2 linked regions of the Homo sapiens genome follow. The protein of the gene in region 1 interacts with the protein of each later gene in a pairwise test. Each region holds a gene or a part of one and is shown on either strand. Other genes may lie near its edges.

Evidence for each region.
Region 2: the proteins of TRIM49C (region 1) and MINDY3 interact in binary tests that used the Homo sapiens proteins (3 or more experiments, as listed by UniProt).

Annotation. Positions count from the first base shown.
Region 1 is NC_000011.10:90,033,296-90,041,105, reverse strand, and holds part of TRIM49C (tripartite motif-containing protein 49C), read right to left. Parts: intron 5,899-7,810; 5' UTR 5,895-5,898; coding exon 5,484-5,894; intron 5,219-5,483; coding exon 5,123-5,218; intron 3,358-5,122; coding exon 3,127-3,357; intron 2,414-3,126; coding exon 2,391-2,413; intron 1,242-2,390; coding exon 1,144-1,241; intron 56-1,143; coding exon 1-55.
Region 2 is NC_000010.11:15,836,368-15,844,177, forward strand, and holds part of MINDY3 (ubiquitin carboxyl-terminal hydrolase MINDY-3), read right to left. Parts: intron 6,906-7,810; coding exon 6,845-6,905; intron 5,233-6,844; coding exon 5,059-5,232; intron 1,913-5,058; coding exon 1,861-1,912; intron 1,267-1,860; exon of another isoform or gene 1,195-1,266; coding exon of another isoform or gene 1,175-1,194; intron 952-1,174; coding exon 837-951; intron 1-836. UniProt on the Homo sapiens protein: Hydrolase that can remove 'Lys-48'-linked conjugated ubiquitin from proteins.

The sequences.
Region 1 (7,810 bases):
ATTTCATACAGAAAGATATCACTGTTGGCTTCTTCATGATGCAGAGTAATATGCACTGCAAAAAAAAAAAAAAAAAGAAAACATGCATAGACATGTGTAAATAAGAAAAAAATAATTGTTCTATCAAGAAGTTACTTTACCAGCAAATGTAAAGTCATAAAAAGTTTTGCTTGTAACTTCTAGTAAAGTATAGAGATGGTTAATATTATATACAAGACAAACAAAACCCTAACCACAGATATTATGTTTTTTTTTTGAAAACTTACATATTGAGAGCCAAATGTGAGACCAACTTCTTTCAATCCAATTTTCAAAGTAAAATTTACACATTATATGCCCTAAATGCAATGCTGTTATCAAGATCATTATTTAGAAATGTTTCTTATTCTTAAAAACTAGTGCTATCATTTTGGAAAGAATGTGAATGTGAAGATTTTCACTTAAGAACTGCTCTAGATATCTGGATAAAAATCCATATGTACATGTTATAAGTGATAATTTAAAGCAGATCTCTGCAAAATCTTTGACCAGTCTCTCTGAGGTCCTCCATGCTAGCTCTGGGCTGAAGCTGGATTTTAGACTTAACATGTAGCTCTTCATATTGCAATTAAACTGAACTTATTTTCATTTGTAATTTTACTTATATCCACAAAATGATTTCTTCCTTTTAGCTTTACCTATTAATTCAAATGTTTGCAATATATGAATAATATATACACATTAAAAAAATACAAAACCCCCAAGAATCTCCAGAAAACTATATTCCCCTAAAGAACAGTTCTTAGCAGTTCAAATGAATACACTAAAGAAATGCACAATTTTGTATTTAACATTAAATAATTCACCATTCTGAGCATTATTTCATTTGCTCCTTTTTAAAATTTTCTACACTACTCCTTTTTCCCGTTATATAACTCAGTACATATTATGCCAGAAAGTATTTCTTTTTCACTATCTTTCAAACTTAATGCTATAAATCTGACTGTAAATACAGACACGGATACCAAAGGGTTGCATGGTTATATTGTTCACTTATGTCTTAAAAGAAGTAAAATATTTGATAAAATATGAAATATTACCTATGTGATCCTAACAATAATAATATTTAGATAGTGGGAGTGCTGCCTGTGGGTGGAGACTTACCTCGGAATTGGTTGAGCCTGTCCCTCAGTCCAGTGATGGGCCCTGCACTGAGCTCTGGATTCAGAGGCTGGGGCATGTGCAGCAGCACGGACTCACTCCTGCAAGGAAAAACCTGCAGTTACAACATCTACAGCCATAAAATAAATAAAAATCACTATTTGTATATAAAAGACATTTCATGAGAATCCTTTGAATCTACACATTTGATAATTCAAAAATTAATCCTTCCTTTTGCAAATTAATTCTTTACAGTTTCTAAATTTTAAAGCATGATGGAAGAATCTAAGCCAGAATCCAATCTGATCCTTCTTTTTTTTTTGCTCCAAATGTGTAAGGTTCCTTAGCTTTATGGCCTTGAGAATATTTAGAAACGAAATTCTGAGTTCCACTTCTTGGCAGACTCCCCTGACATCTTTGTCTGAAATAGCGGGGTTTTGGGGAGACTGATGCATCCACTGCTTCCTTCTCAAGATAAAGAATGGAAACTTGTTCTCTCCCCTTTTAGCAAAGAACTTCCCTAGAGACTTATACAGTTCTAACACTCCACAGTTTTTTTCAATCTATTTTTCAGAACTGTTAACTGATATGTATATATGTATAAAAAACAAAACATCAACACTTTTTCGCTGCTAAAATACTTCCTCCTCTTCTCTCCTGCTTCCTCTGGTGACTTTCTCACCATTCACAAAACAAAACTCTTATCTTTCTCCTGTGCAGGCTTTCAAGCAATAAAACAAAATCAGGGGCCGGGCACGGTGGTTCACGCCTGTAATCCCAGCACTTTGGGAGGCCGAGGCGGGCGGATCACGGGGTCAGGAGATAGAGACCATCCTGGCTAACATGGTGAAACCCAGTCTCTACTAAAAATACAAAAAATTAGCCGGGTGTGGTGGCGGGCGCCTGTAGTCCCGGGTACTCGGGAGGCTGAGGCAGGGGAATGGTGTGAACCCGGGAGGCGGAGCTTGCAGTGAGCCGAGATGGCGCCATTGCACTCCAGCCTGGGCGACAGAGCCAGACAGCGTCTCAAAAAAAAACAAAACCAGGAATCAAATTGTTTGTTTTAGTTCACTCTTCTTTTATTCATTTATTTACTTCGTGGCCTTGTCTTTTAAGGTGTGGGAACGAAAGTAGATGCAAAAAAAAGTGGTATCAATATCTTAATTATTTATGCCATGACTTTAATAGAGCCTGCTTTGATAGTCGTGGAATCTTAAAGAACATATGCTAAAATCTAGGTACACACTCACCTGTGTAATATGTCTCCAAAAGCCTGAAAAAAAAAAAAAGAAGAAAGATTTAGTGCATTTCACAAGATGCATCTTTCACTAAGTTCAGTGTGAGATTTGTACTCAGTTTCTGAAGATATTATTTCCCTACCATCTTCTCTTCTGGAAAGTATTTTCTATTTCTTCTGTAATGAAAAACCCAGTCAGTTGTATTGTTATTAATTAACGTCCTGGGAAAGTCTGAGTCTTGAAGACATTCTCTAAAGAAGTGAAGGGAGAAGAGGCCCAGAAGGTCTATGGTCTGTGGTAACCATGAAAAACCTACTCAGTCATCTTTAACTGAACCTGTTACCCAAATGAGTGGACCCCAAAATAATGTTAATGCAAACCTAGATTCCCAAAACTTCTGATCTTGCCATGTTTACAAATTAACCTAAATGTAAATGAATCACTCACTATTCTATACATGTTTAACAACCCAAAGTATATTATTGAATTAGATGGGGAATATTTCTTGGGGCTGTTACCTTGACCATTCCACAAAGTTTTGTGGCTGGTGGATAAAGTAGGAGGGACCTTTGCCCTGGTAGAATCCCTTAGTGGGGCTATACTCTCCCAACAAAGTAGCATTAGTTATGTGAATGTGTTTTTGGAAACACATCATGGAAATAAAAGTAGGGAGATGGATTTCAGCCATGAGGAAAATACTTATACATGTGAATATTCAAAAACCTGAAACCACATGGCGAGTTTTTACCTGAAGTAGCTCCACATCTGGTTTATGGCACATTTCGTTCAGCTCCTCATACATTCCTCTTAAAATCTCCATCCTATGAGCCATTTTGGCTTTACTTAAATGAAGTCGATGAAAAATTTCTTTCCCCTTCTTTTTCAGCATCTCCAAATTATGTTTTTCTTCTTCATGATGAAATGCAGGCATCTTCTGATACTCAGCTCTAATTGCTTCTAGCCTTAAATTCACATAATCCTGCAGTGATAATGGGTTAGTCAAAAGAGAAATGTATATATCCATCTCCTATTAAATCTCACTGATTCCTTTTGTCTCTCGAACGTCCAATAGTTCAAACTTCTGTCTTGCCAGTTCTTAGAATCTACAAATTTTGTTCCTTTCCTTTTTTCTGCATAAAGATCAACATAGCTGTATCTGACCAATTACGTTAAATTTATTCAAGATAATGTGTTTTCTAAGATAGTTGAAAACAAAAAAACACAATTTGAATTTCTCTATTCCAACCCATATTTATGGCAAAGTAAGAACAGTTCATGCTTGAGAGTTGGAGTATAGGGCTATAGTTACTAGAAAGGAAACAATTCTTTCTATTTCTGAGATATGCAACAAGTTGCTTAAACTCATTATATGAAAATGACCTTAGACTAGCATGTCCAGCTAAGTGCATTTCGCTCAGCAAAACCTATCCTAATAAGGCTGCATTTATGATTTGGCCATCTTTGTCTCCCTGAATTCATTTCCTTCTATTCTTTTTCTAAGTCATCCCAGTCTGAAACATAGACTTCTTTGTGGTTCCTCCGGCCTCCAAATATACACAAACTCAAAATTACTGCATATGCTATTCTCTCCAACTAGAATTACATATATATGTATACAAACACACACACATACATACATACATACATACATACATATATACACACAACCACACACACATACATACATATACACACTCATGGTCCACATATATATCCACACACACATTTGTGTTCCCCCTCCTCTTGAAAACTTTGTTTCAATTTGAATTTTTCAGTGAGTCTTTTTTCTGACCACCCTATTTAAAACTCAAACACTAATCTCCAGTTTCTGGCCTCTATTGTCCTTTTCTACTTCCCTGCTTGATTATTCTCCAACAAAAACCTACCACACTCAAATACATCATGTATTGCATATATTTGTGTATTGACCATTTGACTCTCTTATTTGGATTGTATGATTTGTGAGGACAAAGGTGCTTCCTTTCTTCTTTACTAGTATATTTTCTAATTTAATATTCAACATAGACTAGGTTCTCATGAAATACTTTTCAACAAACTAATCTTAGCTATCATACCCTCAAAATATACATCCACAAAGAGAAAATTATTTTAATGTTTTTCTGAAGTCCTCAGAGTTCTCCTTATGTTTAGATACTAGTTCCCATATTTCTGGCATGTTTACATGTCTCCCTCAAGACACAAATCCGTATTTCTCACCGCTTTTCTCATCGTATGTTATGTATTATTCAATATTAATTAGTTGAGATTCTTAATTTCATGGTTTCCCTAGATTTGCCCTGTCACTTTTTCTGCCTCAAATTTTCCATGCAATTCCAAATACTACTTGCACACTAGCATTCAGATTAATGCTGACCGACACTCAGAAGTTTCAGTTGAGCATTCCATGACTGCCAAATAACCCTTTTGCCTAGCATTTATCCAACCAGCAAATATAGAATGCTTTGAGATGGCCCAGTTTCTTGGATCTGTTGGTGTATAACTATAGGTTTGTATGAAACAAACCAGCATGCTTTGGGTGACATCAGTAGTTTTCTTAGAAATCCTACCTAACAGGCATACTATTCTGTATAAAAATGAGGCCACTTTTTCTCAATGTTTTCTCTCGCCTTTTTTTTTTTACTGTATCCCAGAAACATTACAGTTTGATATCAAGTTCCTATTTTAAGAGTCACCCATTTGCCCACCATAAGTTCCTGGAGAAGGTAGAGTAGTACAGGACTAACCTTCCAGCATCTGGTTCTGGTGGTTTCCACATTCAGGTTTCTGTGATTTTCACAAGCTTTTTCCCACAAAGACTGCATTTTCTGTAAAAGCTTCTCCTGCAAAAGAGCCATAAATTGAAGCACCAGTGCAGACCATGACATAGGGAGGGGGCCCAGAATGAGAGACAAATAAGCCCCTAGTAAATGGCATTTCCTTTGTTTCCCTTCATGTTTGTCAAAGCCCAGAGGTTGGAAGCTAAGAAAGCCCAAACAGAGCTGCTTAAAGGGACTCAGAGTTGGCTTTACCTAATCTCCAAGAAAATAGACCCACAGGAATTTTATGCTTCCTTTACAGAAATCGATCTTCAGAGCCATCACTTACCCGGTGTTCCTCAGCAGCCCACTCAATGGGACGGTGTCTGTGATACCGGTGCTCCTGAGAGCTGGAGCACAGCAAACAGAGCAGGCTCCTGTCCACTTCACAGAATATCTTCTTTGTCTCCCTGTGAGTGCCACACATTTGCTCCTCAGAGCTCAGGAATAGCCAGAGACTGACTTTTCTGGCAAGAGAAGCCATCTTCTTCAAATGAATGTTGGTTTTGAGGTTTATCTGCTCTGTTGACTTTGTGCATTCAGAGCACTGGACAAGAAATGGGATGTCTTGCCAGTTGAGGTAGAAACAAGGCCTGCAAAAGCTGTGCCCACAGTCTATGGTGACCGGGTCTATGAAGTAGTTCATGCACAGGGGGCAGATGAGTTCCCCCTGAAAGACCTGTAAGATTCCAGAATTCATGTTTCTGAGGAACAAAGAGAAACATGTCATTTTGGGGCCTGGGTTGATGAAAAGCTTCTAAACATGTGGAGATATGTGATAGTTATATTTTCTTCTCTTGACAGTGTTCATTAAAGTACAACAAACTATTTCTTCTGTTACAAACTTAAAAATTTACACTTAGAGGGAGTCTCCTGGCTTTATAACAGATATTACTAACCAGAGGACTCACAGTCCCTTCTACTCCTAGTTCCTGTCTGTAGCATAATACAAACCTATTCAACTACCCATTTTCTGAACATAGATCTGGAAATTGGGTTTTGATTCTAAGTGGTCAGAATAAATCATAGTTGTCCCTATTCTTCTTTCAATAACTGATGAATGACTGTGAAAGAGTGGGAGGGAAAAAACTATCCAGGCCAAAGAAATATGAGAAGATGGCCAAAGAAATATGAGAAGATGGTTCTATGACATATTTTTATAGAGGGTCACAAAAGCCGGGCAGCAAACCACCATGGCACAAGTTTATCTACATAACAAGCCTGCAAGTCCTGCAGTTATCCCAGGACTTAAAATTAAATTAAATTAAAAACAAAGACCCAAATCAAAACAAAATTTAAAAAAAGCCAACCAACCAAATAAACAAAGAAAAAGACTGCAATTAAACCAATCAAGTTTCACTAGTAGGGAAAAGAAAAATTATTAAAGATATTGGGTCTTTTTATTTTCTTGCGGATTAAATTAACTTCCCCTAGGGCTGTGCAAGCTCTGAACTAACATATAGGAGGTTTTTGTTAAACTCAGAGAGGTGTAATTATATTTCCATAGTGTGATGGTGAATTTTAGGTATCAGTCTGACTGGATTAACCAACACCTAGGGAACTAGTGAAGCATTGTTTGTGGGTGAGTCTGTGAAGGTGTTTCTAGAGGAGAGAGACATGTGAGCTGGTGAGCTGAGTGGGAGCCTCATCTCTCAATGTGTGTGGGCACCATCCAATCAGCTGACACCTCAGATATAAAGAAAAAGGCAGAAAAAAGGCAACTTCCTCCGTCTCTCTCCTGAAACTTGTTCTGAAGCTTTCAGACTTGAGCTTAGCCAGGATACCGGTATTCTCAGGACACCAGCTTAGAGACAGCCTATATTGGAACTCTCTAGACTCCATAATCAAGCAAATTAATTTTCCTGATGAATTCTGTCCCATGTAGAATCATGTATAGCTTGTGGACAGATGTATGTTCTGAGAAATATGTCAGGTGTTTTTAGTTTTTTTTTTTGTTTTTTTTTTTGAGACAGAGTATCCTTCTGTCACGCAGGCTGAAATGCAGTGGCGTGATCTCGGCTCACTGTAACCTCCGCCTCCAGGTTCAGAGCGATTCTCCTGCATCAGGTTCCCAAGTACCTGGGATTACAGGAACGTGACACTAGGCCTGGCTAATTTTTGTATTTTTTTAGTAGAGATGGGGTTTTGCCATCTTGGCCAGGCTGCACTTGAACTTCTGGCCTCAAGTGATCTGCCTGCCTTGGCTTTGCAAAGTGCTGGGATTATAGGCACGCGCCACAGTGCCCAGCCAGGCGGTTTCATTGTTTTAATATGATAGAATATACCACACAAATCTAGATGGTATAGCCTACTACACCTATGGTATACACTATAGCCTATTGTTCCTACAATAGGCTACAAACCTGTACAGTATGTTCTGTACTGCATACTGTAGGCAACTGTAACACAATGATAACTATTTGTGTATCTAAACATAATTGAATACAGAAAGGGTACAGTAAACATATTGGTATTATAATCTTATGGGACCACCATATGTGGTCTGTGGCTGACTCAAATGGCCCATGAATGTATCTGCACACATATATGTATACATCCTATGGTTCTGTCTGGAGAACCCTGACTAATATAAAAACTATAATCTTTGTTTTGGCA
Region 2 (7,810 bases), on another chromosome or scaffold:
AACGCCAAAACACACTGCCATAATGGAATTATTAATGTGCCATTTTTTTACAATGCTAAATAGATACCATTAAAAATGCATCCCATATTATTAATACAGACATAGTCCCTAGCATAGAGTCAATCAACGCTCAAAAAACATTTGTCAAATAAAAGAAGTTTGATTTCAGACATGATAGATCTAATAGCATAGTCAACTGAGACTAACACGTTACTAGAGCTATGAGACTGGTATTTGGGGAAAAAGAGTAGGACTAGAAGGGGACATATTGGAACTATTAAATAGCTATATAAAGGTAACCTGAGCAAATGAAATATCCATAAAAGGCATACTGGATCCAGGGAAGAAAATTTCTGGACTATAAAAATTTAGAGGAGGAGAGAAAAGAGCAGGAGGTAACAGATAAAGAAGGAAACAAAGCTATCAAAGAAAACAAAACAAAATAAGAATCGTGAGACATTATAGAAAGAAAACTCACACAGTGATTTTTCAAAAAAAAAATCAAGAAATGGAATCAAGGTCAAAAACAGCTTCCAGAAGGGGTTAAGGGGTCAAGTGCTACACGGAAGGATCAAAGGAAACACAATTTGGAAGAAAGGACAGCATTTCACAACCAGAACATTATTGATAATCTCTGTAGTCCAAAAGAGCAGAGGTGAAACTGCTTAAGCAACGAGTGAGTGCTGAGGAAACAGAAATTAACTCATTTTCAACGTAAAAGATTTTTATTCTAAGAATTTAAAAACACCATCAGGAATAAAATTACTCATCACTGCAGGAAAAACAGCACTGAACAACATTAATCAAAGGCAGAAAAATCATCTTCTTGAACACACCTTTGTCAGTAATACAGAATACAGAAAAAGCAATACTCCAAATTTATTTCCCCACATTGAATACTGGTCCAAGACAGCATCTTTTAATTCTGGTAAACTTCTGAACGATCTTTTTCTGGGGGAAAAAAAGAATTAAGTATTGGTATCATGATGAGATTAACTACATTCATAAAAGGGAAAATTTTTAAATTTTCTTATACATTAAAACATATACATACAAACAGGAAAGTTTTGGGACGTTTCTAAATTTTTCATTACAAATTTAGCCACTAAAACCAAAAGCTATTTCTGACAACTATCACTATATATGATATTTATCATTAAGAAAGAACACCTACTTGGCAGGGAACCTCTTCATCTCTTAGGTGAACTGTCTGGCATCAGTAAATTCTTCAATAATATACAGTTATTTAAAGAATAGAGTGGCCTTCTTGTAAGAGGGGGTAAACACAAAGAAAACTTCACTTTTTAAATCCTAGAAATTACTTAACAAATATCTTAATGCCAAAGATAACTTACACATTTGCGGCTTCTTTTAAAAGAAATTAATGTTACATTTTAAACCAAATGCCACCCATAATTCTATCAACAGCCATCTTTACCTTTTACTTTGTAATAAAAAGTTTAAATGCTCTAACAAAAATATCGGTATTCTTAATAAAAGGTATAGAAAACAGATACTGGCAAATAAATAATTCTAATATTTATCCTACTAGAAATCTTCATATTTGTTTAGGTCACAGAAACATTAAGCTAAAATGATTTTTTTTCATTGTAATGATGAAAAAGCTTTTTAATGTTTTTGAAAAGCGTATCTGGGTAGTTAATTAAGGACTCAGCATAGTTTATACATTTACAAACTATTTTAATTTAAAGGCAAATTAATCCTGAAGCAATGGATTTAAAATTTATGTTTAAGTAGCGCATTTCTATGTAAAACTAAGAACCTTTCCACAGTATGAACAGACTTAAAGTGGCAATGTGTCCACAGAGTAAGTATTTTAAATGTTCCAATGTTACTTACTGAATTAATGCATGAAATCGCTCAAAGCCAAGCTCTTCGACAGCCAAGGCAGCTATACATAAAAGACACTTTTCAGCACTACACATGGCAAATAAATGACACAAGATACACACAGCAGGCTGTAAATACTTTCAAGCAATCAAAACTTTCCCTATTTCCTTACTCCCTTAAAATTCTCAGTTTATTTTCAACTTCATTATAACATGAATTTATATTTCAACATCTTTATTATGAATATAACTAAAATCGATATAATACTGAGAATATAGAAGGGTGATTAAATAACATTTCAGTTCAGCTATGCTACGGCAGTTATAAAGTATGAAAAATTACTGATAATCAGTGCCTCACATATCATAATGTGTCCTGCACTTTTAAATAATCTTTCAGATTATATAAATCCAAGTAATATCATCAGAGCTAACCTTCCTTTTTATAATATAAAATCTTTAGGTTTAAGGCTTAATTATTAAACAAACATGTATAAAAAGGCATAACACTTTCAAACTACACAGGTTCAATGACAGCTTTAAGTTTGTTTCCTCATTTATTTGTATAACTGTTAAAAAGTTTTCAGTAACTTATTTAGATTATGTTTATTAATCAAAGGAAATAGAAGAAAGCATTTTAATCAGAGGTAATGTTTATTGAGCACTTTACTAAGTGCCAGGCCCTTTTCTAAATGCCCTACATGTCTTACCTCATTTAATCCTCATATAAACCCTCTTAGCTCCATTTTACAGAAGAGGAACCTGAGGCACACAGAAAAATCCTCTCAAGAGTACATAGGATTAAACAGCAGAGATGAGACTTGAGCACAGATAGTCTTGGCTCCAGGGAGTTATTTATCACAATGAATAACTTCACATATATTTCATAAAGCAAATCTTACTACTATCAAATATAAATTCTCACTGGTGAGTTAAGAAAATTGATTCATTATGAAGTCAAAATTTTAGATTTTTATTTACAATTTAAAATGTCACATTATGCTAGCTTTCCAAAGCCTAGTTGTGAGTGTTTCATATTTCGTTTTAAAATCTTTAGCAGTCCAAATGTATTAAGTTATTTCTTGGTTTATGTGGGAAACAAACTGAAATTGAACCTGAGTATTCACTACTGCGAACAACTGTGCATTACCAACAAGCCAAAACTATACACACCACATAAGCCAATGAAATTAATGTTTGTAGAGAAAGTAATATTAACAAGAGGGGAAAACACTTTACATTAAAACTTTCAGAAAATGAAAATTCTACCTAATCTTTTCCAAATTATACTGCTTGTTCTGCAACATTAGATTATCTAAATAGTTTTACTGGGTATACTACAAGAGTAGACATAAAGATAATAATTTAGAGAAAAGAGGCAAGCAAAATAAAAAGCTTAGCAGGCAGGGATGGTGAAAAAATATAAAACACAAGAAAAAGAACAAAGCTGGGAATAAAGGAAAGAACAGGTAAAATAGATTGTTACACGGAATAAAAATTGTAATATAAATACAGTTCATTTGTCACTAAGGTAAATTCTCAAATTTTCAGTTAACAAAGTATTTCAAATGTATACATTATTTAAAAAATTTAAAATATGGTTTACTTCATGGCAACTTTTAAAATGAGATACAAAGTAAACTGGAAAAATTACTAAAATGTTTTCTGGAGGGTAATTCAATATAATATGCCCATCTAAATTAGTTACTGAAGTACCAAAGGGAATGCATTATAAGGCCCTTTAACCTATAGCAACGTGACGTATCACCACAGAACTGCATAGCATATTTCATAGTATGCACTCAGTATACTGTTAAGATACTAATGGAAAATGTTATATAAAAAGATCTTACTATTTTCTCACATCAATATACAGACTGGCTTTAAGCACAAAATCTTTAAAATACCTTTTCAAAAGATCAACAATTCCTCTTTCAAAATTTTAATATCCTAAATGAACCTATTAAGTGTGCTAACACCCACACAGTAAAACCTGGAGAATATGTTAAAACCAATCTTAGTGACACTTTGGACTAGCATCCTTGTGACTGTTTTCCACTTGTTGTCTTCAAATGTCATTATAAACTCTAAAATATGTTAAGTTCTTTTTGAAAGGCCATATTTCAAAGGCTTCAAAAGGAAGCATCATATAGCTGTTCAAATGTTCAAAATTATTCCTTGCAAATGTTACTACTATTAGAATTTGCCAGGCTTAAGGCATTTTAACTGCAGAGGTAGGAGAAAAAAGACACTGACAACACAGAGGCATTTTAGTCCAGGGAGGCAACAGCACCTTATAGATAATACTATATGGAAAGCAAAATGTGTATCCCATACAATTGAAGTGTACTTTCAGGTACGTAATCTCTTTACGAAAACTTTCCACAAAGATGATAGTTAATGTGATGCTCTGTGGGTAGAATAAGTCACTTATTTAACATAAGCACTTGGGACTACCAATTATAAAAAACCATCAACTAGCAAGATTATTCCTGAAAAGCAAATCAGAAAAGCAACTCTTAACTAGCTTCCGTACCACTAGCTGTCTCCATTTCACACTGGCAGCTTTCGGGTCAATTACATAACAATTTTCAAAAGTTAAAAACCACAGAATATATAATTTTTATGAATAATGAGAATAGCTATTATTTAACGTAAACAGCTATTATTTAACTTATCTTCAAGGTATGAAAAACTTAAGGCATAATTAAAATTGCCTTAAAATAATCTATATGTATAAAAATATCCAAATAATTCGGAAAGAAAAGAAACAGCTTGCAATGAGGAGAAATGTCCCCATCTTTGCTCTGGGAAGCAAGTAAAGATAACTTTATGAAATCTTCTGATGTCCAAAAAAATCCGTTTTTGCAATACCAAAGCAAAACATTAAGGCATCTGAAACTGAAGCATATCATTATTTCTAAATAAGAGTTCTAAAGCTCAAAAGAGATTATTATCAAGCAGAAGTTAACCAGAACATTTTTAAAAGTTTAAGAGATGCATTTTTTTTTGCAAAAATGTAGTATCTTCTAAGTAGTTAAAATAAATGATATGGAAATAAAAAATAGTGAGGCTCAGTAATTAAGCTTAAGCTGGAAAAGAATACATGTTATGAAAATTTTAAGTAATTTTTTCTTCAAAATATTCAATAGATTCATTAAAACAAAGGAACAAGAAAAAAACTTCAGGAAATAAAAATATATCTTACAAGAATGTTCCACTTGGCAACTAGACTCTGCAGGACTCCCAGAAATACTAGCAGTTTCCTCAGTTGTCTTTCCTCTTAACCATGAAACCAAGCAGTATGATCCAGAGTGGTCACAACAAGCACTTTCTAAAATATCACACAAGGTATGACAAAGGAGTTCCTTCTGCTCTTCCTCTAAAAATAACCAAAGCATAAGTTATAATGGTTTCCTCTGGAAAAAAAAAAATTCTGTCATGAATAACAATAGTAAGAATGGGTTAATGATGAAAATCAAGCATTTTAAAAATGGGGGAAAAATCTCTAAATAGATTTTAAATTATGTCTTAGAAAAACAATGTGTTTGTGGATTAAAATATCACCACTTTAAATAAAGCCATCCAAATAACACCACCAAGTAGAAAAAGAATACTGAAAAATGCAGAACTAAACATTATGAAAGATCATAATGTGACACTGATCATCACTTTCTTAAAACTTTAGCAACTGCAGCATTTAAGCCAAGAGGTTTCCTCTACTGAAGAACTGAGCACAATGTAAAGGCCTGTTGAAACCTCTATTTTTTTTCCCTCACATCTGAATTAATCTAACGTCTATGATCACCCCGTCCCAAAGGGATAAGAATAATGAGATGAGAGACCGTCAGCACATATGTTACCAAAGTCCATTACATCAGCAGAAGCCAGTGGTTAGAATACAGATTTGAGCATTAGAATTTTATAGAAAATGGCGCAAATGCTCAGACCATCTCTTTATGAACCTTAGCCACACTCTTTTCAAGCAGTATTACTCTCAAGAAGTAGTATTACTTTCTGAAACTTTCAAAAATTTTATGATACAAGGAGGTTTCTGTCTCTCCTAATGGATTAACAGTTCTTTAACTGCAGGAACTATGCTGTTCACTTTCTAATCACCACAGTATTTATGACACTTATGACAATGCTTTACAAATGTTTTATCAAAGTGAATATAGTGAATATAGTATAAGAAATAGTATAAATTTTATTAAAAGTTCATTTCAAAAATAGTATCTCAAATAGTTTCTTCTCTACTAAAATTTGTTTTGTATTTCACCTATTAATTTAAAACTTATGGAAGTGATCCCTTAACTCTTAAATTCAAAATCATTAGTAGATTCTATAGTCATGGTTTGGAATGTAAGCTGTTACATCCTTAGATACAAAACTGGGATTGTAATGTGTCCTAACTTCTTCCAGAATTTACTGTGAGGTTCACAGGAAATTGTGTAAGTGAAGGAAAGATCTTTGTAAACTGTCACGTGGAATGCAAATTCTTGTTATTATAAGGTGGCACCACACATCTCTCTGGGTACAGAAGCTCATGTTACAGAAGCTATGACAGCTTCATTTGCAATTTCATCCAAAATTATTTGCAGTATTTGCATTGTGTAAGGCATTATACTAAAACATGCAGGAATATAATGATAATTCTGAGGTCTTGCCCACAGCTAAATAAGACTACAAAAAAAAAAAAAAAAAAAAGACTGTTCTTTATGGCATGCTGCCACCTAACAGTTCTAGGAAATGCACCGTGTTTTACCAAGAGGCCAAACGTTTTTCCCTTAGTTATACCATCATGTCTTATAACCCCTGGTTAGAAAGCCAAATTTGGAAATATGGAGTCACTGTTCATGAAACTTTCTAAAACATTTTAAAAGGAAACCTCAGGAAAAAAAATTCCCACTGATACTTGACTTTCTCAGATAATTTTAGATCATCTCTATTAAAACAGAGGAGGAAGCAAAAGTTTTAAAAGACAGCTATCATACCTGAACAATCCCGCCAAGAAGACTTCTCCGAAGAAAACAGGAGCTTCTTCAAAAGAAATGCCTTTACACAATTAAAGCAATAATTAGTGAAATGCATTATAACCATACATCATATCATTCTTCAATTTTAAAGTGGGAAAAAATAATGTGTACTCCCTTTCTAATCTTTTGACTAGTTCTGTAAAGATGTCAAATGGGTTCCCCTCACATTTGACAGGAACTGTGCAGTTATTTATTCAGAGTATACTGCTATAAACTTGATTCTAGATTCATAAAATTCTTCTTCTTCCACAATACATATTTTCTGACAAGTAGAAGAACTAACTCACATAACAGAATAACTGAAAAGCACACAAACTTACTGCTCTATTCACAAAGTGAAAGCCCTGTAGAACACGAACAAGTCTACATTTCATTTAGATTCCTTCAGGTAAAAGAAATCTAAATATAAAAGTGGTTCTGTTCCCTTAGTCTTCATCTGTGACACAAGATTAACACTATTAGAGTCATCACTTTATTATCAGGAGCTCAAGTTTAACTCAAAAAGGTACAAGATTCAGAAGAAAAGACAAATGGATTTCTAAACTTCCCCTTAAGCGAGTCAACGATGTTACATTGGTTATTTGATAAAAAGCTGCACAGTGAAGTGTCTACTTCTCAAAGTGTAGTTCAACGGTAGCTATATCCCAGTCACCTGACTTGTTTAAATTGCAGTTTCTTGGGCTCCACCTATTCTCTCTGAATCTCTAGAGGGCAGGTCCAAGAAAAAACAGGTTACAATGACGACTTTTCCTCACCTGTGTTTGAAAGTATTAGTGTACAGATTAGGAAGACTGCTTTTTATCAGGCAAACTTAGGTTTGAATCCTGGCTCCACTATTACTAACTAAAAATAACTGTACAAACTTTAAAAGTTTGCAGCGAAGATTATATGAGAAAATCTATGTAATGCACTTAGCACAGTACC